Homo sapiens: one gene and its partners. The protein of the gene in region 4 purifies or fractionates together with the protein of the main gene of each other region. This does not show direct contact. Each region holds a gene or a part of one and is shown on either strand. Other genes may lie near its edges.

Region 1 (2,211 bases), on a different chromosome or scaffold from region 4:
GACAGCGGCCGCCGCAGGCGCACGGCGAGCATGTCGTCCGCCGTGCCGCGGAGCCTTAGACGCAGCGCCTCCATGCGCGAGGGCCGGGAGGCCAGCGCCGCCGCCGGGGGCCGCAGCGACTCCTGGCTGCTGGACGACGCCGAGCCGGGCGGCTCCGGGGCGCGGGGACCGCCCCGGCCCGCGCCCTCGCCGTCTGGGCGGCCCCGGGCCAGGCGGCGGCGCGCCAGAGTGTCGCAGGGCATGAGGTGGTGCGAGCTGAAGGACGGCCGGCGTGTCAGGCGCCCCCCAGGCCCCGCGCCCGCCGCGCCCTCAGTGTCCGTCTCCACGTGGCTCAGCTCGCTACGCTCGTCGTCCGCCTCATCCCCCGCCCCTGCCCGCCGACCGCTAGCGCCCGAGCACACGCTGCGGTCCATGGTGGACAGGGTGGAGTAGCCCGACACAATGGAGCGCGTGTCCGCGGCCGGCCGCTCCTCCGGCGCCGCCGGGGGACTGAGGCGTCCGGGGGCCTCGGGGGCGACGGCGCCAGGCAGCGGCCCCTGCGGCCGCTCCTGAGTCCCCGGCGCTGTGGCCCCCGCCCCAGGCTTGTGCGCCTCCTGCTCCGAGTCGTCGTCGGTGCTGCTGCCCAGCCCCCGCGCCTCCCGCCGCTTCTTGCGCTTGCGGTTGACGGCCGAGATGAAGGAGATCGCCAGCATCTCCCGGGCGTACGGCTCCTTCTTGGGGGCCCACGAACCCTGTGTGGGAGACAGGTCAGGATGCGGGGGGCGCCCGGACTCGGCCCCCTGCCGACCCCGCTCTACCCGGTCCACCCCCACGTCACGGCACCCAGTCGCCACAAGCCCCAGCCAAGGCCAGCACCCACGGCCGCATCATAAAACGCTCCTCCTCCAGCCCCGTGCCGCCCTCCGTCCAGAGACTACCCCCGCTGGCCCAAATCTAGGCTCTCAGCTCTTTCTTGTGAGGTGGGCTGGTCTCCCAAAGCCCCCTTCCATTCTGTTTTCCGTATCCAGCCCTGGCTAAATCCTTTAGACACGGCTCTGGTGATGACAATCTCTCCACAGTGAATAACGCTTGGCAGCCTGAATCCGTTTCACACACGCCCCTGGGGTGTCATCACCAGAGCTTCCTGCATGCTGATCCCCAAATCCCCGCCAGGGGCGCTCTCTGACCACAAGTCCCCCACCTCCTCTCCACCCGCTGCCACCTGGAAACCTGCCTTCCCACCTGCCCAGCATCTACAGGCCTCTCCAGGGCAACCCGCCCAAGTTCACGTCCTCCCCTTTCCGCCGGACCCCACCAGCTCCCCACCCCGCCAATCCCCAATCCCAGGTCAATCCCGCCGCCAGCTCCGCCCCTGCAAGTGGCTGAAAGATCCCGTATGGTGTCATGGTTTGGATTGGAGCCGCTCCCAAACTGTGATTTCCAACCCCAAGTTGGGCAACTTCATGCCGCTGTTCTCACCTGAACCAGCCCTCACTGCTACACCCTGTGGTGTTTTGGGGCCTTGGCCTTTCACACTTTCCCAGGAGGGCCCATGCTGCCGCCCATGGCCTTCTGGAAGCTGGTTTTCATCCGCCCTTCTGGCCTCTCCTCTGCCTCTTGGGAGGTTCTTCTTGCCCGCCCCCCGCCCCGCCCCTGCCTTCCCCTGCCTTCCCCACTGAGACTCAGTGTTCCCAGGACTGTTTTTGGCCCCTTTGCCTTCTCTGTTCGTGTTCCCTAGAAAATACCATTCCCAAGCAGCGCTGCTATCCAGGCCTCCCTGTCCAACACCACACTCACTTGAGCTCCGGGACTCTTCTTCCCATTGAGAATCCATTTCTACCTGGGTGTCTGTAGGCTCTTAAAACTCACCTATCCGGAACCACAGCATCCTACCTACCCCTGCCCCAAACTGCCTCCATTCACACTGCTCACCTTAGGGCGGTCTTGTGACTCCTCCCTCTCTCCTCCACCCACAGCCAAGTCCTGGATTCTTTTGAAATGGCTCCCAAAGCCAACTCCTCCTCCTCCTCCGGCAGGCCCTCATTCTGCCCTCTCTGGGCCCTCCTGCCCCTCCTAATAGGGTTTCCTGCCTCCACCCTTGCCCCAGCCCGGGTCTCTCCTCCAGAGCCACCATTCTGAAGCAGGAATCTGATCCTCACCCAGCTTTGCTCAGAAGCTTGCATGCCCCAGCACCCACCAGGATAAAGCACAAGTTCCCCAGTTCAGCACATG
Region 2 (3,500 bases), on a different chromosome or scaffold from region 4:
CCCTGCTCATCATGCCACTGGGCTACTTGTTCCAGGGTCACTGACACATAGGCCCGCAAGCACTCTCCGCCATTCTGGGGAGACAGGGGTGGCAAGCAAGATTAGTAATCGAGGGACAGATGCCAGAAGGCCCTCAGTCTGTATAAACAAATGTTCCCAGAGGCCTATGCCTCATAAAAGCGGTGAGTCTATAATGTTTGTGGTGGGCTCATACCACTGGAGTTAAGACATTTACTGTTACAGACATAGACGTGCATTACATAATTCCCCCTTTACCTAATCAGCTATCTCACAAATGTGTATATATATTTTTTTAATCACAAGGGACAATGGCCAAGCAAAATGAATTTTAATCATAAAGGTCTACCTCTGGTACTAAAAAAATATGCTTACAATCTTGGAATAACTGGGGATACTGTAGGTCTTTATATAGGTCTTACACAAACCACTAGTTGCCTAGGGATTTCCAAGCTGATCAATATTCACTGGCAAGTTCCTATAACCTTTCTAATCAATCACAGTAGCAGACACCTGAAAAGGTAACCAATTCACCCAAGAAACAAAAAGAGAAAAAATATTCAGGCATGTCTCCCCTCTCTAGAGGCCCATCACTCTGCTGACTTTATTACTAGAAGAAATATGCAGAAAGACTTTCTTATGGCCCCAAGTCTAGATGTCTGTAACCTCTTTCACAGTAGCAATACCCAATACAGATGGGCAGGGTGCTTGGTATCCATATTTTTAAAAACTGTAACATGCTCCAAAGCACCAGAAATGCTTGGCTTTTGCAGACTGAACCCTTCCTGAATCTGCTAAGTAAATATGGAGTTGAGAATTCCGTATTTCAAAAGCATAAAACCATGTCAGATTTCTCAGCATAGTATAAGCCCATGGCTGGGGAGCTATCTTCCCTCTTCTACTCTCCATGTCTCAGATACCTGCATGGTGGCATTGTCATCTGTGTGAAGGGTACACTGTGCCACAGCAGGGAAAGCTTGGCAGATGAGAAGCTGGGAAAGGGGAGGCTTTGTATTTCGTACTACTGTTGTCAGGATATCAATGGCTGTCTGAAAGAGAGAAGAAAAAGAAAAGTCAGAATTGCCTCTGGGGTGGGGGTTGCCCAACAACCAAGATCCTTACTGGATGGGTATTACATAGCAACCCAGAGAAAGCTTATTAATGAAAGGCAAGTTTCCAAAATAAAAGGAATAATTAAATGGGTAGTACTCTCAGCCTTCTCATAATAGCTTACTAATTGATTAGCCATAGGGGTGGGCAGTAGTACATGGTAGTGGATTGGATAACCAGGTGACATACTTAGTGGCACTGTGTAAAGGTGGCACTCTGTTCAATTCACTGAGGGTACCTCTGGAACAAGAAGAGCCATTTTCTTTCTTTCTTTCTTTTTGAGGCAGTCTCGCTCTGTCACCCAGGCTGGAGTGCAGTGGCACGATCTCCACTCACTGCAACCTCTGCCTCCTGGGTTCAAGTGATTCTCCTGCCTCAGCCTCTTGAGTAGCTGGTACTGCAGATGCCTGCCACCATGCCCGGCTAATTTTTGTATTTTTAGTAGAGATAGGGTTTCACCACATTGGCCAGGCTGGTCTCGAACTCCTGACCTTGTGATCCACCCACCTCGGCCTCCCAAAGTGCTGCAATTATAGGCATGAGCCACCGCGCCAAGCCAAGCCATTTTCTTAAAGCTTCAGAGAATCACCCACTGTCCTTGCAGGCAAAAGAGCTCAGCAAAATCACCCCATGAATCTCTAACGCTATTAGGTTCTTGTCAGCTAGATGCATCTGTGGGTGGCACTTGTAGATCTCTCTCACACACACACACACACACACACGGCCACTTACCGCACAAAGCCCTGCAGGAATCTTGTCTGCTGGGGCCTGCATTATGCTGACCAGAGTGGGAATCAGCCTCATTTGCATTGGGCCCTGACAGGCTTCAATCTGGGACAGCTCCTTGAAGATGTCCTGAGCCAGTGAGGCGACGACGGGATCTGAAGTGGATAAGGCAACACGGAATCCCCCTGCCTGATGGTCTGCATCTGCTTCTCGCTTAATGATGCCTGTTGTTTGGCCCTAACCTAAGTTAACAACTTCTGCATTGATTACTTATCACATACCCGGGACCTAGTGGGGCCACATGAATAACCTGAAAGAACAGGAGAGATCCTAAATCTGCAAGAGGTACACTTTGTATGGCTTCATTAAAGTAGGGACTAGTCATTAACAGCTACTCATAAAACAAAATGTGGCTTTTTCTAGAGAAAAATCTTTAAAGTCTTTATTCTTGTGAAACCTACGTTATAAAACCAAATGCTTAAAAAAAAAAAAAAAGCCCAACTGATACTTTAAGAAGACATGAAAGCTGCAAAAATTGCCAAAACACTGGCTTTGATGCATGAGAGAAATCATACATATCTCCTATGGGGTAGCCACGGTAGACATGAAGAACTCTCAAAGCTACTTCTGGGGCAAAAGGCAAAACTCCTAAAAAGCAGAGCCTTATGAAGAAAGGGAACTTTAGCTCAATCTTCTTTATCTATAGAACAAAACATCCTCCTCTATTTAGTATGGAAAAATATAGGCAATGTGCATTAAAGTATACCTTAAAAGATCACTGCAGCATTGTTTGTAATAGAAAAAAATTGGGAATACCCTAGATGTCCATTAACAGAATGGGTAAATTATGATATACCCATTTTATGGAACATTAGTAATGGCTGAAAAGAATGAGATATATCCAAGAACACAATGTGGAAAGCTCCTCAGTACACATTTTTCAGTGAAAAAGCTATCAAATAACATGTTCAGTATATCACATTATATAAATAATCCTTATCCTGTACATCTTTCTGAGCTTCAATATTGGAGCTCTCTCTTTAAAAAAAGAATCCTTAATATTTTACTAGTAATAAGGTATTAATAAATACATTCACTACAGGAAAAAAAAAACTTAAAATGCAGAAAAGTAATAATGAAAACACCTGTAATTCCACTACCTAAACACTCAACATTTTGATGTATTTTTTTTTAAAACATACCTATCTATACATACATGCTTTTCTAAAAGAAAAATCAAAACTTGGGATCATATTCTATGGATTTTTTGGGAAAAGTATCTTTTCATTTATTATAATGTAAGCTCTTTCCCATGGTTTCAGATATTCCTTTTAAGCTTGATTTTTAATGGCTGCACAGTATTTCATTTTATGGATATAATTAACTAATGTCTTTTTATAATTTCCAAATTTTTACTACTGTAAAAAATATCTAGTGAATACCTTTGTTTATAAACTTTTCCATATATCTTTCTTTAGTATCTCCTTTTCTAAATTATAGTCCTAGCCCTTTTCTTTTAGGAGGCTTTTCATTTGCCCAATTTCCTATTCTATCATCAAAGTTCTGAATTATGTCTCTTGCTTATTAGCCCTTTATTTATTATCTTTATCCCTAAGTCCTTACTAGAGAGTAAGTGTTACAGAAAT
Region 3 (3,500 bases), on a different chromosome or scaffold from region 4:
AAACACAAACTTAAAATGGATCATAGACCTAAATGTAAAACCTAAAACTATACACCCTTTAGACCATGCTTGCCCAACCCACTGCCCAAGATGGCTTTGAATGCAACTCAACACAAATTAGCAAACTTTCTTAAAACATTATGAGACTTTTTTTTTTTTTGAGATGGAGTTTCACTATTGTTGCCCAGGCTGAAGTGCAATGGTACCATCTCGGCTTGCTGCAACCCCCGCCTCCCGGGTTCAAGCGATTCTCCTGCCTCAGCCTCCACAGTAGCTGGGACTAGAGTGAGCCACTACGCCCAGCTAATTTTTTGTGTTTTTAGTAGATACGGGGTTTCACCATGTTGGCCAGGCTGGTCTCGAACTCCTGACCTCAGGTGATCCACCCGCCTTGGCCTCCAAAGTGCTGGGATTACAGGCATGAGCCACTGCACCCAGCCTATGATATTTTTTGTAATTTTTTTTTTTTTTTTAGCTCATCAGCTATCGTTACGTATGGCCCAAGACAATTCTTCTTCCAAGGTGGCCCAGGGAAGCCAAAAGGTTGGAAACCCTTGCTATATTTTATTTACTTCTTACTATTTTCTTGAGACAGAGTCTTACTCTGCCACCCAGGCTGGAGTTCAGTGGTGTGGTGGTCTCGGCTCACTGAAACCTTCACCTCCTGGGTTCAAGCAATTCTCATGCCTCAGCCTCCCCAGTAGCTGGGATTACAAGCACGTACCACCACGCCCGGCTAATTTTTGTAATTTTAGTGCAGATGGGGTTTCGCCATGTTGGCCAGGCTGGTCTCAAACTCCTGACCTCAGGTGATCCACCCGCCTCGGCCTTCCAAAGTGCTGGGATTACGGGCGTGAGCCACTGCACCCCGGCTGGAAACCCCTGCTTTAGACAGAGGAGGAGTTCTTTGTGGCCTTCAGTTAGGCAAAGATTTCTTAGATAGGACATAAGCATGGACCAGAAAAGAAAAAAGTTGATCAACTGGACTTAAAAAGCAAAACTTTTTTGAAAAACCTCTATTTCAGCACCTCTGCTACTTTGTAAGGCACAGACTGAGAGAAAATATTTGTAAAACATCTATCTAATAAAAGAGTATCAAAAGGTATTAGGAACTAAGTTGTGGGTTTGGGCCACACCCCTCAAAAAAGTCAAGGACCTCAGGGAGATCAGTGGGGACAAACCAGCCTCTCCACTTGTGAGGAAAGAACTCTGTGCTGAGCAGCTGCTGGCCCACAGCTAGCTCAACAGCAACCCAGAGCGATCCCTGTTAGTTGTCTCTCTTTCGTTTGCCCTCTTTTTGAGTACCGAGATTTACATTTTTATGTAGATCTCAAGGTTTTCTTCCTTTGTGATTTTTTTTCTACCACTTTTCACTTCATTTCTGTATCCAGAGGGCTGATAAAAAATTCCTCAGCATTTCCTTGTTTCTCATGGTTTAATTCTCTTTTTTCCCTTTAACTCTTTTCATCTATCTGGTGGAATTTATTTTGGTGGCTAGGCGGGGAGCTGAGAATCCATGTGACCCAGCTAAATAATCTTATGGCTTCCTCCTTCCCAGACCAGGGTCTCTGGAAAGGTGAGGGAGCAGGTTCCTCCCCTACAAATCATCTGCACTTCACAAAAGACTCCTTCCATGAGCATGGGCTTCTCAGAACTGTGTTCTACTCTACTCCAGCTCCCACTGATCACTCTGTTTGGGGCCATCCCTTGGTCCCTGGGTCCATCCTGAGTCATGAGTGCTTGGGCCACACCCACCTCCCTTTTGGTGTTTTTGGGACACAGTCACTCTAAAGTTCACTCCATGGGAGGTGTCAGAGATGAAACCCAAGGTAGCCACACCTGAGAGGTGTGGAGAAACAGAATCACAGGCTAAGGTCCAGGTGTAGGTGAGCCCAGGGAGCAAGGGAAGGCTCAAAATATGAAATCCAAGAATATCCGAGGGGAAGGTTGGCAACAGGAACTAAGGAGATTGTACAAGTTAAGCCTGCAGTGCAGTGACCTTTGGTCACAGTATACACAGGAAAGGGAGTATCTGAAGCCTAAGATTACATGTTGACATTTCTTCTTCTCTTGATTTCTTGGTGTGTTTTTTAAATTCAGTATTCTGAAAAGTTAATTCGTTCACATAGGTCAAAAATCAAATATTGGTGCTGAGAAGGAAATTAACAGCTAAAGGCTTACATTAGAAAAGAAAGGCAGGCCAGGTGTGGTGGCTCATGCCTGTAATCCCAGCACTTTGGGAGGCTGAGGTGGATGGATCACTTGAGGTCAGGAGTTCGAGACCAGCCTGGCCAACATGGTGAAACCCCGTCTCTATTAAAAATACAAAAATTAGCCAGGCGTGGTGGCACATGCCTGTAATCCCAGCTACTCAGGAGGCTGAGGCACGAGAATCGCTTGAACCTGGGAGGCAGAGGCTGCAGTGAGCTGAGATCGTGCCACTGCACTCCAGCCTGGGCGACAGAGTGAGGTTCTGTCTCATAAATAAATAAATAAAATAAAATAAAATAAAATAAAATGATATTGAAAAGCTTCATTCCTACCCTGTCCCTGCCATCAATCCCACCCTGCCCCTGCCATCAATCCCATCATCCCACTCCCACAGGTAACCATTTTCATTAGTTTCTACATCCCAGATCATATATCCAGGCAAGTATATACTAACATAATTCTTATTTCTCCCCTTTTTACATATAAAGTGGCACACTATACACACGGTTGTGCACCTTGACAAATTTTGGAGATCTTTCCAAATCAGTACATACAGAGCTTTCTTATTTTTTTTTATAGTTGATTAATGTTCAGTTGGATAAATGGACATTTGTACATTTCTAAAACCCACTTTGGCAGTATGCATCAAGAGCCTTACATTTTTTCATATACTTTGATTCAGTAATTGTTCTTCCAGGAATCCATCCTGAAGAAACAATCAAGAAATGAGGGACAAAGACTGATATTTACTGTCTGATTCTTTAAAACTATCCCCTCAAAGAAATAAAAAGGAAGCAGCAATAAGCAAGTAGTTAGGCAAGGATGGTACATTCCTGCAAAAGAATATCACATAACTATTAAATGTTTCTGGAGAACTTTGGTGACACAGGAAAATTAAGACAAACCAATAGATTCAAACACAAAACTGGATATACAGTTGACCCTTGAACAACATGGGTTTGAAATGTATGGGTCCGTTTATATGCAGATTTTCTTCTGCCTGGGCCACCCGGGACAGCAAGACCAACCCCTCTCCTTTTTCTTCCTCCTCAGCCTACTCCATGTGAAGACAAGGATGAAGCCCTTTATGAGGATTCATTTCCACTTTATGAACAGTAAACACATGTTTTCAGCTTACTTTATTGTAATAATACAGTATACAACACAAATAACATATACAAAATATGTGTTGACTATATTACTGGTAAGGCTTCTGGTCAACAGTAGGCTGTTAGCAGTTAAGGTTTTAGGGAGGCAAAAGTTATATGTGGATTTTTGACTGCATTGGG
Region 4 (3,500 bases):
GTGGAGTGGGATTCAGCCATCACGCATTGCTGCCTCTTAAAAGGGAAGGCGGAGAAGGGGCAGTAACAGGACAAGAAAACAGGAAGCATGTGCAGGAAGAAGACATGCATCAGCAATGAAGACTGACTTGAAGCCAATAATGAGGATTAATGTTAGATGTCCAAAAGCACAGAAGCTTCTCTCTTCTCTCATTTGCCAGGCCTAGGAAAAGGGACAATTTCCCCTACTTTTATCCACCAAAATATGACCCCCGCCTCCTGCAAACCTGGGGCTTCTGGCTCCAGCTTGTCTCTCTTCCTGGGCTCACTGGCAAAAGCTGACATGAGGGGTTCCTCCTTGGTGACATTAGCAGAGGGTCCTCCTGGCCTCTGCTCCTCAGAGGCTGTCTCTCCTGTTTGCTCTTGCGTGTGGCTGTGAGATCTCAAGAAAGCAACCAAGCTGGGGTCTAGAGGCGAAGGTAGAGGGGAGAGTGAGTGAGGGTAGATCCTCCCTGGCCTCCTACAGACCTGGAACCCGCTGAATATCGCCTGTCTGTGGGTGCCAAGGACAGGACAAGCTGCTTCCGAGCCTGGGCCTGAGCCTTCTGGGTGCTCCTGTGGCCCATCAATGACCCAGCCTTCTCACACCTGTGGGGTCACTAGGCCCACCTGCCCACCTGCCCACCTTTCCCTCTATCCCTCACAGTCCACTGGCCCAGGTTCCTATGCCTATCCCTTTGGTTTCAGGTCACAGTTCCAATGTAAGTGGCTGTAGAATGAATAAGTTAATGTTGACTAGGGCCAAAAAGAAGGCATTTACAGAAAGAATTTCCTTCTCTTAGCTAATTTATTTATGCACACACACATATATATATATATATATATATATATATTTTTTTTTTTTTTTTTTTTTTTTTTTTTTTGAGACGGAATCTCGCTGTGTCGCCCGGGCTGGAGTGCAGTGGTGCAATCTCAACTTACTGCAACCTCCATCTCCCAGGTTCAAGGGATTCTCCTGCCTCAGCCTCCTGAGTAGCTGGGATTAAAAGTGCCTGCCACCACGCCTGGCTAATTTTTGTATTTTTACTAGAGACGGGGTTTTACCATGTTGCTCAGGCTGTAAATATATATTTTTAAAGAGATAGGGTCTTGCTCTGTTACCCATGCTGGAGTGCAGTGGCACAATCGTAGCTCACCACAGCCTCAAACTCCTGGGCTCAAGCAATCCTCCCGCCTCAGCCTCCCAAGTAACTGGGACTACCGGCATGCACCACCATATCTGGCTAATTTTTTTTTTTTTTTTTGAGACAGAGTCTCACTCTGTCGCCCAGGCTGGAGTGCCATGGCACGATCTCGGCTCACTGCAAGGTCCGCCTCCCGGGTTCAAGTGATTTTCTTGCCTCAGCCTCCCGAGTAGCTGGGACTACAGGCGTGTGCCACCACGCCCAGCTAATTTTTGTATTTTTAGTAGAGACAGGGTTTCACCGTGTTGGCCAGGATGGTCTCAATGTCTTGATCTTGTGATCCGCCCACCTCAGCCTCCCAAAGTGCTGGGATTACAGGCGTGAGCCTCCACACCTGGCTGTAATTTTTTATATCTTTATTTTTTGTAGAGATGGGGTCTCATGATGTTCCTCAAGCTGGTCGTAAACTCTTGGCCTCAAGCAATCCTCTCACCTCAACCTCCCAAAGTGCTGGAATTACAGGGCAAGGCACCATACTGAGCCCTAACACGTATTATACTCTATAGAGGTGCTAGTATACAGTGGGTAACAAGATTGACTGAGTGCCTGGCATTTTGGTGAACAGACACTAGGGGTGAGGCATAGCATAGAACAGTATCACAGAGTAGAAGAGACTATACATATACTAGAGTATAGCTATAATAAAGCATAGTGTATACTATACCAGGGTAGTACAGTTATACATAGCACAGTGGTTAAAAAGTAGGGCCTCGGCTGGGCACGGTGACCATCTCAAAAAAAAAATCGCAGCACTTCAGCAGGCCGAGGCAGATGGGTCGCTGGAGGTCAGGAGTTCAAGACCAGCCTGGCCAACATGGTGAAACCCATCTCTACTAAAAATACAAAAAAATTAGCTGGGTGTGGTGGTGCACATCTGTAATCCCAGCTACTCAGGAGGCTGAGGCAGGAAAATCGCTTGAACTAGGGAGGTACAGGTTGCAGTGAGCTGAGATCGTGTCACTGTACTCCACCCAGGACAACAGAGCGAGACTCCGTCTCAAAAAAAAAAAAAAAAAAAAAAAAAGCAGGGCATATGAGACCAGGTAGATCTGGGTTTAAATCCTGTGTCCTGTGCTTCTTATAAGGTGTGTGACCTGGGTAGAATTTCTTTTAAATTTTAGGCCTCAGTTTCTTTCATAAGTAAAATAGGGTTAATACCACCTACCTCACAGGACAAGTTTAAGGACAGAACTGAATAATGCATTAAAGGTCAGGCACGGTGGCTCATGCCTGTAATCCCAGCACTTTGGGAGGCTGAGGTCGGTGGATCACTTGATGCCAGGAGTTCGAAACTAGCCTGGCCAACATGGTGAGACCCCATCTCTACTGAAAATAAAAAAAATTAGCCAAGCATGGTGGTACACACCTCTAATTCCAGCTGCTGAAAAGGCTGAGGCACAAGAATCACTTGAACCTGGGAGGCAGAGGTTGCAGTGAGCCGAGATCGTGCCATTCCACTCCAGCCTGGGTGACAGAGGGAGACTCTGAAAACAAAAAACAAAAAACAAAAACCAACCTGTGCAATATAGTGAGACCTCATCTCTACAAAAACCTTAAAAGAAATTCGCTGGGGGCCAGGCACGGTGGCTCACACCTGTAATCCCAGCACTTTGGGAGGCACTTTGATCCACCTGAGGTCAAGAGTTCGAAACCAGCCTGGCCAATACAGGGAAACCCCGTCTCTACTAAAAATACAAAAAATAAAAAAATTAGCCAGGCATGGTGGCAGGCGCCTGTAATCCCAGCTACTTTGGAGGCTGAGACAGGAGAATTGCTTGAACCTGGGAGGCAGAGGTTGCAGTGAGCAGAGATTGCGCCATTGCACTCCAGCCTGGGCAACAAGAGGAAAAATCCGTCTTAAAAAAAAAAAAAAACCTAGGCGCAGTGGCTCCAGCACTTTGGGAGGCCAAGGCCAGTGGATCACCTGAGGTCAGGAGTTCGACACCAGCCTGGCCAACATGGTGAAACTCCGTCTCTACTAAAAATACAAAAATTAGTTGGGTATGGTGGTGGGCACCTGTAATCCCAGATACTCAGGAGGCTGAGGCAGGAGAATCATTTGAACCCAGGAGGCGGAGGTTGCAGTGAGCCTACGTCGCGCCATTGCACTCTAACCTGGGCAACAAGACCGAAACTCCATCTCAAAAAAAAAAAAAGGCCGGGCATGGTGGCTCATGCTTGTAATCCTAGCACTTTGGGAGGCCGAGGAGGGCAGATCACCTGAGGTTGGGAGTTCGAGACCAGCCTGACCAACATGGAGAAACCCTACCTCTACTAA
Region 5 (4,287 bases), on a different chromosome or scaffold from region 4:
AAATATGGAAAGGGGAAATATACCCATGTTCATGGATTGGAAGAATCAATATTGTTAAAATATCCATACTTCCCAAAGCAATCTACAGATTCACTGCAATCTCTATTAAAATATCAATGACATTCTTCACAGAAATAGAAAAAACAATCCTAAAATTTATATAGAACCACAAAAGACCTATAATAGCCAAAGTTATCGGAAGCAAAAAGAACAAAACTGGAGGAATCACATTACCTGACCTCAAATTATACTACAGAGCTACAGGAACCAAAATAGCATGATACTGACATTAAAAACAGACACATAGACCAATGGAACAGAATAGAGAACCCAGACACAAATACACACACCTAAAGTGAACTCATTTTTCACAAAGATGCCAAGAACATACACTAGGGAAAAGACATTCTCTTCAATAAATGGCACTGGGAAAACTGGATATCTATCCGCAGAACAATGAAACTAGACTCCTAACTCTTGTCACATATAAAAATCAAACGAAAATGGGTTAAAGACTCAAATCTAAGACTTCACACTGTGAAACTACTACAAGTAAACATTGGGTAAGATCTCCAGGACATTGATCTGAGCAAAAATTCATTGAGCAATACCCCACAAGCACAGGCAACTAAAGCAAAAATGGACAAATGGGATCACATCAAGTTAAAAAGCTTCTGCACAGCAAAGAACGCAATCAACAAAGTGAAAAGACAACCCACAAAATGGGAGGAAATATTTGCAAATTAACCATCCAACAAGGGAGTAATAACCAGAACATATCAGGAGCTCCAACAACTCTATAGGGAAAAAAATCTAATAATCCTATTGAAAAATGGGCAAAAGATTTGAATAGTCATTTCTCAAAAGAAGACAAATGGCAAATAGGCATGTGAAAAGGTGCTCAACATCACTGATCATCAGAAAAATGCAAATCCAAACTACAATGAGATACCATCTCATCCAAGTTAAAATGGCTTTTATCCAAAAGACGGGCAATAACAAACGCTGGCAAGGATGTGAAGAAAAGGGAACCCTCAAACAGTGTTGGTGGGAATGTAAATTAGTACAACTATTATGGAGAACAGTTTGGAAGTTCCTCAGAAAACTAAAAATAAAGCTACCACACAATTCAGCAATTCTACTCCTAAGTATTGACCCAAAAGAAAGGAAATCAGTATATCCAAGAGACATCTGCACTCCTATGTTTCCTGCAGCACTGTTTAAAATAGCTAAGATTTGGAAGCACTCTAAGCGTCCATCAGCAGATGAATGGATAAAGAAAATGATGTGCATATACACAATGGAGTACTATTCAGCCATAGAAAAGAATGAGATCCAATCACTTGCAACAACACGAATGGAACTTGAAATCATTACGTTAAATGAAATAAGCCAGGCAGAGAAAGACAAACATCACATGTTCTCACTTATTTGTGGCATCTAAAAATCAAAACAATTGTATTCTAAGAGCAGAAGGATGACTACCTGAGGAAGGGTGGTAGGAGGGAAGGGGTGAGGTGGGGAGAGTTAATGGGTACAAAAAAATTAGAATGAATAAGACCTACTATTTGATAACACAACAGTTATTATAGTCAATGATAACAATTGTACGTTTTTAAATAACTTAAAGAATGTAACTGGATTGTTTGCAACTCAAAGGGTAAATGCTTGAGGGGATGAATACCCCATTCTCCATGGTGTGCTTATTTCACATTGCATGTCTGTATCAAAACATCTCATGTACCCCATAAATATACACATCCACTATGTACCTACAAAAATAAAATAAAATAAAATAAAAACTAATGAGCATAATTGGATTGTTGGTAACACAAAGGATAAATGCTTGAGGCGATGGATACCCCCATTTACCGTGATGTGATTATTAAACATTACATGCCTGTCTTAAAATATCTCATGTAACCCATAAACATATACATCTACTATGTACCCACAGAAATTAAAAATTAATTTAAAAAAAAAGAAAAGAAAGGGAAATGGGCTGCGACAGATGTGCCCTCTTGGAAAACTAAAACTTAGAGCTCTTTGTCCTTCTGGGGTAGCACGTGTATTCTACAGATCTTGTCCAGAGGGAGACATTTTTCTCATTTCTCCCCCCTCTAGATTATAAATCTCCCCGCAGGGCAATGGCAATTCTAATTCTGCCTTTTAGTTTCTATATTAAGGAAAATAGTTTAGAGTGGTTGGTCGGTCACATAGACAGCTGTAGAACTAGTTTCTCAAGTTTAAAATACCAATAACTCTGAAACCTGAGATCTGCAGCCCTGGGAGCCACCAAGGTGCACTCAGTGGCCTTCTAGGCTTCGGTTCCTGCTCCGCGCCCCGCAGAAACCGCGGCTGGCTGGCCAGGGGCTCTTCCAACTTCCAGCGGGAGCAGGTGCACAGGTCAGGCCCGCCCCGCCCCTAATGCCTTCTACCCCCATTACCCACCCCCGCCCCGCCCGCCAGTCCTCCATAGTCCGCTTTTTAGGGAACCTGCTGAGCAAACTAGCTGGGCCCCCGGACAGGGGAGAAAAGCACAGATACCCCCACTCCACTCCACCCCCAGCCCCTCCGCACCCCTCCAGCCCCTCCCCACACCCCACACCCTGGCTGGGGTGGGGTGGGAAGGGTGCTGCTCCCTTCTCGAACCTGGCACTCGAGTTACAGCCCGACGCGGATTCGGCTGGGCTAGACCCTGAAGCACGGGTAGAAACGCAACTCCGGAGTCCCAGGCTGGGGGCAAGGACCCTCTCTGACCTCTCAAGCTCCAGCGCTTCCGAAGCCCCCTTAGCGTTTCCCTGGAGGCGCCCAGGTCGAGTCCTTATATACTAGCGGGTTGGCGCCATCCCACGCACATCCCACGCAGGAGATGCAAGAGCCAATGGGCGGGTCTGCTAAGCCCGCGAACTCTGCCGCGTTAAATTGCCTAGAAGCTCCCACCCTTCTGACTGTTGCCACGTAGTTCTTAGTTTCCGGGAATTTGGGGATTTTTTCCTCCCCCTTCTTCCCACCCTTCCTCCGTCTCCTCGCTCCCTCCATCCATCTCTCCCTCCCTATCATCTATCTATTCATCTATCTGGATTACAGCAAAACAAAGAATAAAGATTATGAAGAAAGAGAAGAACTTCCCAGGCCCAAGCAGCTGTCGGCTCCTGCGCTCCCAACGGGGTGGCCGTTTCCTTCCTCGCACCCTCTTCTCTCCCGGTGCCTGCGGTCCCACCTTCCAGATACCCCTCGGAGAGTCCAGCTGAGCTCTCGCCAGAGCTTTCCCCTTCCAACCCGCTCGACTTGCCCAGATCCCAAGCTGGGCTTCTCTCTCCATCGCCCCAGAAAGTGGGTCTTGGAGACCGAGGCAAGAATTTGGGCCTCCGCTTCTGTTCCAGACCCCGGACCCCTTGCCAAAATGCGGCAGATGTGCAGATTGGGCCGCGCTTGGTTCCTGGCTGGGTTTATGGAGCCTGCGGCTGAGGCAGGCTCCGCAGACCCCGAGCCAGAGTGGGATTTAACGGCGGCCGGTGCGCTGTGCTTGGTCAACCCCGGTAACCGTCACGCTGCTAGTGATATGAAAAAAACCTGCCAGCGTTCTGCTTTTCTGCCCCGCTGCAGTCTTTAGCACCCGCCAGGATTCTGTCCGAGTGTTTGGATTTTGTAATCCTCCTGTCTTTGGCCAACTCCCCATCCTTGGCGGAGCGCTCGCCCTTGGCCGGGCTCCGTGCTGCCAGCCTTGCGGAACCCTAGGCCCGGGCGGCTCTGTCGGAGGCCCACTTCTCACTGATGCGGAGTGGCCCGAGGGTGGGAGCAGCGGTTAATGCCGCACTGATTAATACAGGCTCCAGTGAAAGCGAAAGTAAGAAAATAAAACGGATTTCATTATACATATACAATGTGTGTATGGATACATGTACATACATATTACACTTATGTGTATGTTACGCACGTTTGTTAAAATGAGGTCATAATGTTCATGCTGTTTCATAACCCACTTTCTTTCAATGACCACCTTTTCATTTCAGTAAATCTTCGTATTCTCATGTTGCAGCTTCTCCATTTTTCTTTAACATGTTTACAGAGAGTCTGTGCAAACCTGTACCAAATCCAGAACCATGCATCTATAACGTGCTAAAAGATTGTCAACCTAGAATCCTATAACAACCACAAAAAAGGCCTACCTAAATGGAGGCAAAGTAATGACTTCAGACAAAAAAAAAAAAAAAGGAAATCTGAAAATCTGAGGGAATTTGTCACCAGCCGATCTTTCTTATGAAAAAATATTAAAGGAAGTTC
Region 6 (3,932 bases), on a different chromosome or scaffold from region 4:
ACCTCAGTTTGTAAACCTAAGTAGTATTAGTGGCCGGTTTTCTACCAGAATATATATAGGTGACTATTATAAATTCTGGCCTTGACATCACCCCAAAATACCACCTACAGGTGCACATATTGCACAGCTATAAATACACTCCTGCTATTACCTGTTTCAAGGATGAGATCCAAAAAGATCAGATTTGCCAAGGTGATAATGCAGAGTCACTATTAGAACGCAGGTCACATTAGGCAACAGCTTTTTCAAAATTTATCAAATTCGTCTTTTCTTCCCCTTTGTCATTATTACCTTAGCATAAAAGCACCTCCACCATGTGTAGATTACTACAACACCCTCCTTAAGCTACTTTGTAAACATCAAACATCTTTGCTTTTTTAAATGTGTGTGTGTGTTTATATCAGATAGCCCTTATTCCACAGAAGATTTAGGAGAGCTTATTCAAGCCTATAATAGATGCCTAAAGCCTAACATATCCATTTTATGGCTCAATCCAACTCATATGGTCTTGTTTTCCACTTCTACCCAACATATTCAACCTTCTTAAATCAGGTCTCTCTGCTACTGACAAATATATGTATTCCTACTTTGGTTCCTTCGTTAAGTTACTTTCTATGTCTGGAATATACTTTATCTTAGTCTTTAAATACCTGTTCAAGGTCCACCAAAGTTACACTACAACTTTAAAGCTTTTCTTAATATCAACAACACACAAATCCCTAATTTCTCACATGGCTGTCTATACTGCAAGTTAATGCCTAATTATATATAGGCCTACTCTCTATGATACACAAGTCATTACTTCAGTATTGCAAGTAATAATTTTTGTCCATTAAATTGTTTCACAAATGTACATATACATTTTCCCAACAGAAATCTAAGCTTCTTGTAAACAAAAGAACATACTTCTGTGCCCCATTGGACCTACTAAAATCACAGCTCAATAAACATGACGTTATTCATAATAACATCTTCACTTTTAAAAACATGCTTTTCATCCTATTACTAGTAAATATTTAACTAGAAAATTTACTTTTTACAGGTTTTACAACTAAAAGAAGAACCAAAACAACCCAAACAAGCACTCAACAAATGCACGACAGCATGTACTATTTTTCTTTTTGCCCCACTGAATAAGCTACATCTTTCTAATTTTACCATTTGATTCATTCTACAAAATGCTTTTCCCATGGCAGTCACTTAGTCAGAACTGAGACTCCCTCTTCCTGGTTCCACTATTTTATCAGGTGAATTTCTTTTTTCACAGCCACAAAGTCATTGCACTGCTTGCATTAACATTCCCGTTAGTATAAGATGACTACCCTTAATCAGTGGGCACAGAAATCATTATATTAGTCAGAGGTGATAGTTTTTCCTTTCTTCATTTAAAAATCTATTAACGATGAGAATAAAAATAATCTTAAAAGCTTAAGTACGTAAATCACCTGGAAGGTCGACAAAATCTTCTTCTGTAGCCATTTTTGAGATGATCCTGAAAGAAAAGTAAATCATCAATTTGGTTTCTTTAAGATAGAGTCGAGTAAAATTTATTTTCAAAGTAACTTCATCCAGTATGGGCATGCTATACACCAAACATCTCCTAAGGGCTCAAAACAATTTTGAGGTTATGTTATGACATAACATAGGTTATGACAGGCATTTAAAAACTGAACTGCAGGCATCTGGTAAGCTTTATTCCGCTTCTCTCCCCACAGTGAGAATGGCTTTATTGCTTTCTTCTGATTATATATAATGTAAACAATATATGTGCTCATAGTAAAAAGTATAGATTATATTATTCTTTCATACAACTCTTTATGTTTATATGTATAACGTCACATAATGGGAGATCATCGAAGCTGAAGATTTTCTTAGAAGGGGAGATAAATTAGAAAAGAAATGATACGGATTTTTATATAGTAACCATAACCAAAGTATGAAATATAGAATAGTGAACACCAAAGAAGTCCAGAAATATGTAAACAAAATGAGTTGTCGCCCCCATTAGTCATTCACAGCTTGTACCTTTTAACTGATAGCTGTCTTTCAGAAGAGTTTGTCAATAACATATGCTCCATAAATCAGCCTCAAGAACTGCATAAAAGGCCACCATTTTGACAGAAGAACTGAAAACGTCAAATTATTTCGAGACGTACTTGTTACATAATCTGTTTCTCCCAACTACCAAGTGTGACGCAAAGACACACTTTTAAGGCGTTTCAATACTTCTACCATGGGGAGAAAAGTTATTTGGAGGCCTAGGAACTGGAGCTAGACTAAAAAGCAGAAGCCAAGATCGCGCCACTGCACTCCAGCCTGGGGGACAGAGCAAGACCCCGTCTCAAAAACAAAAACAAAAAAAAACCCAGCAGAAATCACAAGCACCTCTCAAGAGTAAGACGTAGGCACAGACGAAATGACGACATGAAAACTTAAGAAATAATAAAAGTACAGTAAATTAACTCTGGTTATCGACACACGATCACACTTGATTTCAAAAATTCCTGCGGCTTTCCCACTGAAATCCCTCAGAGATCACAGCCTCAGCCTAGCATTTCCTTCTCCCCAGCCTCGGGCGCCCGTGCCCCAGCCAGCCGCTCAACCACTCGCCTGGAGCGGGGGGCCTGCACTTACCAGACCGGACGCAGCCATGTTCCGGCCCCGCTGAGCCAGCGCAACTGTCTGAGGTGGAAGCCCACACGGACCACAGCTCCAGGAAGCCGAGCAAGAAACGAATCGCCGGAATACCAGGCCGCGGCCAAGCAATAACCTTAAGTCTCAGGCGACTGCCGCGAGAGCTGCGATCCGGAAGGCGCGCGCTAACAACACTCCCCCGCCATTGGCTCCGCCCTCAACAAACAAGAACGCTTGGCCTGTGCCTGGGTTTGAACCCGGAGACACATGCGCAAAACGGGCCGCGCCGTCCAATAGGAAGCAAGCCGTTAGTGGGCTCGCCCCTTCATGCTCCAGGCCAACGGCCCTCCAGCCTGCAGACCCACCCGCCCGCCCTACCTCTAGCCGCTCTGCTCTTCCCACCTCCCTTCCTCAGCGCCGCGCCCGGGACAGGCGCGAGACTGGGCTTTTATTAGGAAGGCACGATCCTGGGAACCGCTCCTTGTGCCCAATGTAAAACTTCTCAACAGTTCTATTAAGGAATAATAAGTAATACTTGGAAGGATGAGAGGTAGAAATTGCAGACGACTTTTTTTTTAATAGAATCTTTTTTTGAAGAGATTTTTCTAATGCAGATTCGTCAGCCACGCCCAGCCCATCTAACCATCATCTCTGAAAATAATTGAATAATTATGTATAATAATGGTGATGATGGCTTGTATTCTTTTTCAAGTATGTGGGCGATATTTTTATGATGCATTGCCAACAAATGACCCACGTAAATATCTATCATTTAAGTATGATGCACTGAAAAGAATTCTATACAGAATCCTGAAACCTGCCAGCCATTGACTAGCTATGTTATGGAGGGCAAAATTGCGGCACCATTCTGGGTGTTTCCATAGTGATAGAATGGAAGTCTAAATTAGACGCTCTGAAGACTTCTCACCTGACCAGTGTATGATTCTATGAAGCTGTATCTTATTTTATTATTTAATTTAAAATTACAAGAAAATTCTAATCAGAAAATAGTTTACTAATTGAATAAATACATTAATCAGGAGTTGAGCTAATAGATTTTTAAAACATGTAGTGCTTTAACAAATGCTGTCAACTATGAAGGCCAATTTTTTTATTTTATTTATTTTTTTGATAGAAAAAAAGGAACTATGATCTCTGACTGAAATTAGGCCTGGATTGCACTCCATTCCATTAATTCTGCCATTATGGGCAACTAAGTTATCTGTTCCTTAATTCTCTTGTCTGCAAAATGAGAATACTATTAAAGTGGTTGAGATGTTGTAATTGAATAATTCCTG
Region 7 (3,500 bases), on a different chromosome or scaffold from region 4:
GCCATTTTCTCTTAAAGTAGTGTCATCTGTCACCAAGTCAACAGCAACCTGTGATTTTGAGTCTGTTTTTTCTTTGGACTCTATTCCTCGGGGATGTTGGAGGAATGACTTATTGTCATCTGAATAAGAACTTCGGTTAAACCAGTCTAGAACTTTAAATATGGAATCATCAGTTGACTTCTTTATCTCAGTGGCATATGGACCAGAACGTGAAGATGTCTTAGCTTTTAGAGCCGGGAGAGGAGGGGGCTTACCTTGCTGACGGTCTCTAGAACTGCCACCTGGCACCTGAGATGGCTCAGGCTCAACACAATGAGACAGTTCATCTGCAACATAGAAATACTTTTCTAAATAAGAAAAGAGCATGCTTAAAGAACTGTTAATCATTCACATCATCATCTTTATAAAAGCACTTTGTATTTGCACTTTCTATACCAATAGCTGTTTATACCAGCATTTTTCAGGGGTTAAAATGTAAGTTGTCCTAATTAAGGTATTCTACCAAAGGTGCCCTATGACAGTAAAGGAAAGGAAATGTAGAGACCTGGAAGTACATGGTATAGACCTAACCGAAAAATTTCTTTGTAGTTCCTTCTTTATTTTAAAAATACATGTGAATTTTGCATTCTGTTTCATGTTACATTTTATTTTATTATTTTTTTTGAGATGGAGTCTCGCTCTGTTGCCTAGGCCAGAGTGCAGTGGCGGGATCTCGGCTCACTGCAACCTCCGCCTCCCAGGTTCAAGCGATTCTTCTGCTTCAGCCTCCCAAATAGCTGGGATTACAGCCATGCACCACCACGCTCAGCTAATTTTTGTATTTTTAGTAGAGACGGGGTTTCACCATATTGGCCAGGCTGGTCTCGAACTCCTGACCTCATGATCCACTCACCTCAGCCTCCGAAAGTGCTGGGATTACAGTCATGAGCCACCACACCCAGCTCCATGTTACATTTTAAATGTTAATTTTCTCTTACTTTTAAATCTTTGTATAAAACTGACACTCCAGGAAGATATGCCATGCCGATTTTATGACTTCACCCATCCCCTGGCACATATCATAAACCCTAGAGGGGGCTTAAACCCAGGTTTGAGAAGCACAGACTTAAGTGATTTCAGGAGTTAGAAAAATAACTTTCAAATAAGACTAAACAAGGAATTTTATCCACAATATTTAAATGGGAAAATGAGGATATTTCCATTCCTGGGCCTTACTATTGATGTATTGAATGAGAAGAATTTCTGAAGATTGGGCACAGTAATCTTTACTAACAGCTATTCTAGTGATTGTTCTGCATACTGGGGTTTAAGAACCGTGTTTTCAATCCAACAAAGATCAAAAAGACAAAGAAGGGCATTACATAATGGTAAAGGGATCAATGCAACAAGAAGAGCTAGCTATCCTAAATATATATGCACCCAATACAGGAGCACCCAGATTCATAAAGCAAGTTCTTAGAAACCTACAAAGAGACTTAGACTCCCACACAGTAATAGTGGGAGACTTTAACACCCCACTGTCAATATTACACAGATCAACGATACAGAAAATTAACAAGGATATTCAGGATTTGAACTAAGCTCTGGACCAAGTGGACCTAAAAGACATCTACAGAACTCTCCACCCCAAATCAACAGAATACACGTTCTTCTCAGCACCACATCGCACTTATTCTAAAATTGACCACATAATTGGAAGTAAAACACTCCTCAGCAAATGCAAAAGAATAGAAATAATAACAAACGGTCTCTCAGACCACAGTGCAATCAAATTAGAACTCAGGATTAAGAAACTCACTCAAAACTGCACAACTATATGGAAACTGAACAACTTGCTCCTGAGTGACTACTGGGTAAATAACGAAATAAAGGCAGAAATAAATAAGTTCTTTGAAACCAATGAGAATAAAGACACAGCATTCCAGAATCTCTGGGACACAGCTAAACCAGTGTTTAGAGGGAAATTTATAGCACTAAATGCCCACAGGAGAAAGTGGGAAAGATCTAAAATCAACACCCTAACATCACAATTAGAAAAACTGGAAAAGCAAGAGCAAACAAATTCAAAAGCTAGCAGAAGACAAGAAATAACTAAAATCAGAGCAGAACTGAAGGAGATAGTGACACAAAAAACCCTTCAAAAAATCAATGAATCCAGGAGCAGGTTCAGGTTTTTTGAAAAGATCAATAAAATAGATAGACCATTAGCCAGACTAATAAGAAAAGACAGAAGAATCAAATAGACACAATAAAAAATGATAAAGGGGATATCACCACTGATCCCACAGAAATACAAACCACCATCAGAGAATACTATAAACACTTCTATGCAAACAAACTAGAAAATCTAGAAGAAATGGATAAATTCCTGGACACACACACCCTCCCAAGACTAAACCAGGAAGACGTTGAATCCCTGAATAGACCAATAACAAGTTCAGAAATGGAGGCAGCAATTAATAGCCTAGCAACCAAAAAAAGTCCAGGACCAGATGGATTCACAGCCGAATTCTACCGGAGGTACAAAGAGGAGCTGGTACCATTCGTTCTGAAACTATCCCAAACAACAGAAAAAGAGGGACTCCTCCCTAACTCATTTTGTGGGGCCAACATCAACCTGATACCAAACCCTGGCAGAGACAACACAAGAAAAGAAAATTTCAGACCAATATCCCTGATGAACATTGATACCAACATTCTCAATAAAATACTGGCAAACAGAATCCAGCAGCACATCAAAAAGCTTATCGACTATGATCAAGTCAGCTTCATCCCTGGGATGAAAGGCTGGTGCAACATATGCAAATCAATAAACGTAATCCATCACGTAAACAGAACCAATGACAAAAACCACATGATTATCTCAATAGATGCAGAAAAGGCCTTCGAAAAAATTCAACAGCCCTTCTTGCTAAAAACCCTCAATAAACTAGGTATTGATGGAACGTATCTCAAAATAATAAAAGCTATTTATAACAAACCCACAGCCAATATCATACTGAATGGGCAAAAGCTGGAAGCATTCTCTTTGAAAACTGGCACAAGACAAGGATGCCCTCTCTCACCACTCCTATTCAACATAGTATTGGAAGTTCTGGCTAGGACAATCAGGCAAGAGAAAAAAAAAAATGGTATTCAAATAGGAAGAGAGGAGGTCAAATTGTCTCTTTTTGCAGATGACATGATTGTATATTTAGAAAACCTCATCGTCTCAGCCCAAAATCTCCTTAAGCTGATAAGCAACTTCAGCAAAGTCTCAGGATACAAAATCAATGTGCAAAAATCACAAGCATTCCTATACACCAATAATAAAGAGCCAAATCATGAGTGAACTCCCATTCACAATTGCTACAAAGAGAACAAAATACCTAGGAATCCAGTTTACAAGGGATGTGAAGGATCTCTTCAAGGAGAACTACAAACCACTGCTCAAGGAAATAAGAGAGGACACAAACAAATGGAAAAACATTCCATGCTCATGGATAGGAAGAATCAGTATC

What was found.
Region 1: the proteins of RPAP1 (region 4) and ARHGAP23 purify together in Homo sapiens (affinity purification with mass spectrometry, with the first as the bait; one large-scale study listed by BioGRID). This does not show direct contact.
Region 2: the proteins of RPAP1 (region 4) and IPO9 purify together in Homo sapiens (affinity purification with mass spectrometry, with the first as the bait; one large-scale study listed by BioGRID). This does not show direct contact.
Region 3: the proteins of RPAP1 (region 4) and PHF8 purify together in Homo sapiens (affinity purification with mass spectrometry, with the first as the bait; one large-scale study listed by BioGRID). This does not show direct contact.
Region 5: the proteins of RPAP1 (region 4) and SLFN11 purify together in Homo sapiens (affinity purification with mass spectrometry, with the first as the bait; one large-scale study listed by BioGRID). This does not show direct contact.
Region 6: the proteins of RPAP1 (region 4) and CENPC purify together in Homo sapiens (affinity purification with mass spectrometry, with the first as the bait; one large-scale study listed by BioGRID). This does not show direct contact.
Region 7: the proteins of RPAP1 (region 4) and SYTL2 purify together in Homo sapiens (affinity purification with mass spectrometry, with the first as the bait; one large-scale study listed by BioGRID). This does not show direct contact.

Annotation. Positions count from the first base shown.
Region 1 is NC_000017.11:38,508,464-38,510,674, reverse strand, and holds part of ARHGAP23 (rho GTPase-activating protein 23), read right to left. Parts: intron 732-2,211; coding exon 1-731.
Region 2 is NC_000001.11:201,867,157-201,870,656, reverse strand, and holds part of IPO9 (importin-9), read right to left. Parts: intron 2,010-3,500; coding exon 1,861-2,009; intron 1,068-1,860; coding exon 939-1,067; intron 75-938; coding exon 1-74. UniProt on the Homo sapiens protein: Nuclear transport receptor that mediates nuclear import of proteins, such as histones, proteasome and actin. Serves as receptor for nuclear localization signals (NLS) in cargo substrates.
Region 3 is NC_000023.11:53,995,974-53,999,473, forward strand, and holds part of PHF8 (histone lysine demethylase PHF8), read right to left. Parts: intron 1-3,500. UniProt on the Homo sapiens protein: Histone lysine demethylase with selectivity for the di- and monomethyl states that plays a key role cell cycle progression, rDNA transcription and brain development.
Region 4 is NC_000015.10:41,530,758-41,534,257, forward strand, and holds part of RPAP1 (RNA polymerase II-associated protein 1), read right to left. Parts: intron 446-3,500; coding exon 266-445; intron 1-265. UniProt on the Homo sapiens protein: Forms an interface between the RNA polymerase II enzyme and chaperone/scaffolding protein, suggesting that it is required to connect RNA polymerase II to regulators of protein complex formation.
Region 5 is NC_000017.11:35,370,822-35,375,108, forward strand, and holds the start of SLFN11 (schlafen family member 11), read right to left. Parts: upstream 2,801-4,287; 5' UTR 2,653-2,800; intron 2,407-2,652; exon of another isoform or gene 2,276-2,406; intron 1-2,275. UniProt on the Homo sapiens protein: Inhibitor of DNA replication that promotes cell death in response to DNA damage. Acts as a guardian of the genome by killing cells with defective replication.
Region 6 is NC_000004.12:67,542,704-67,546,635, forward strand, and holds the start of CENPC (centromere protein C), read right to left. Parts: upstream 2,801-3,932; 5' UTR 2,653-2,800; coding exon 2,635-2,652; intron 1,493-2,634; coding exon 1,446-1,492; intron 1-1,445. UniProt on the Homo sapiens protein: Component of the CENPA-NAC (nucleosome-associated) complex, a complex that plays a central role in assembly of kinetochore proteins, mitotic progression and chromosome segregation.
Region 7 is NC_000011.10:85,727,642-85,731,141, forward strand, and holds part of SYTL2 (synaptotagmin-like protein 2), read right to left. Parts: intron 327-3,500; coding exon 1-326.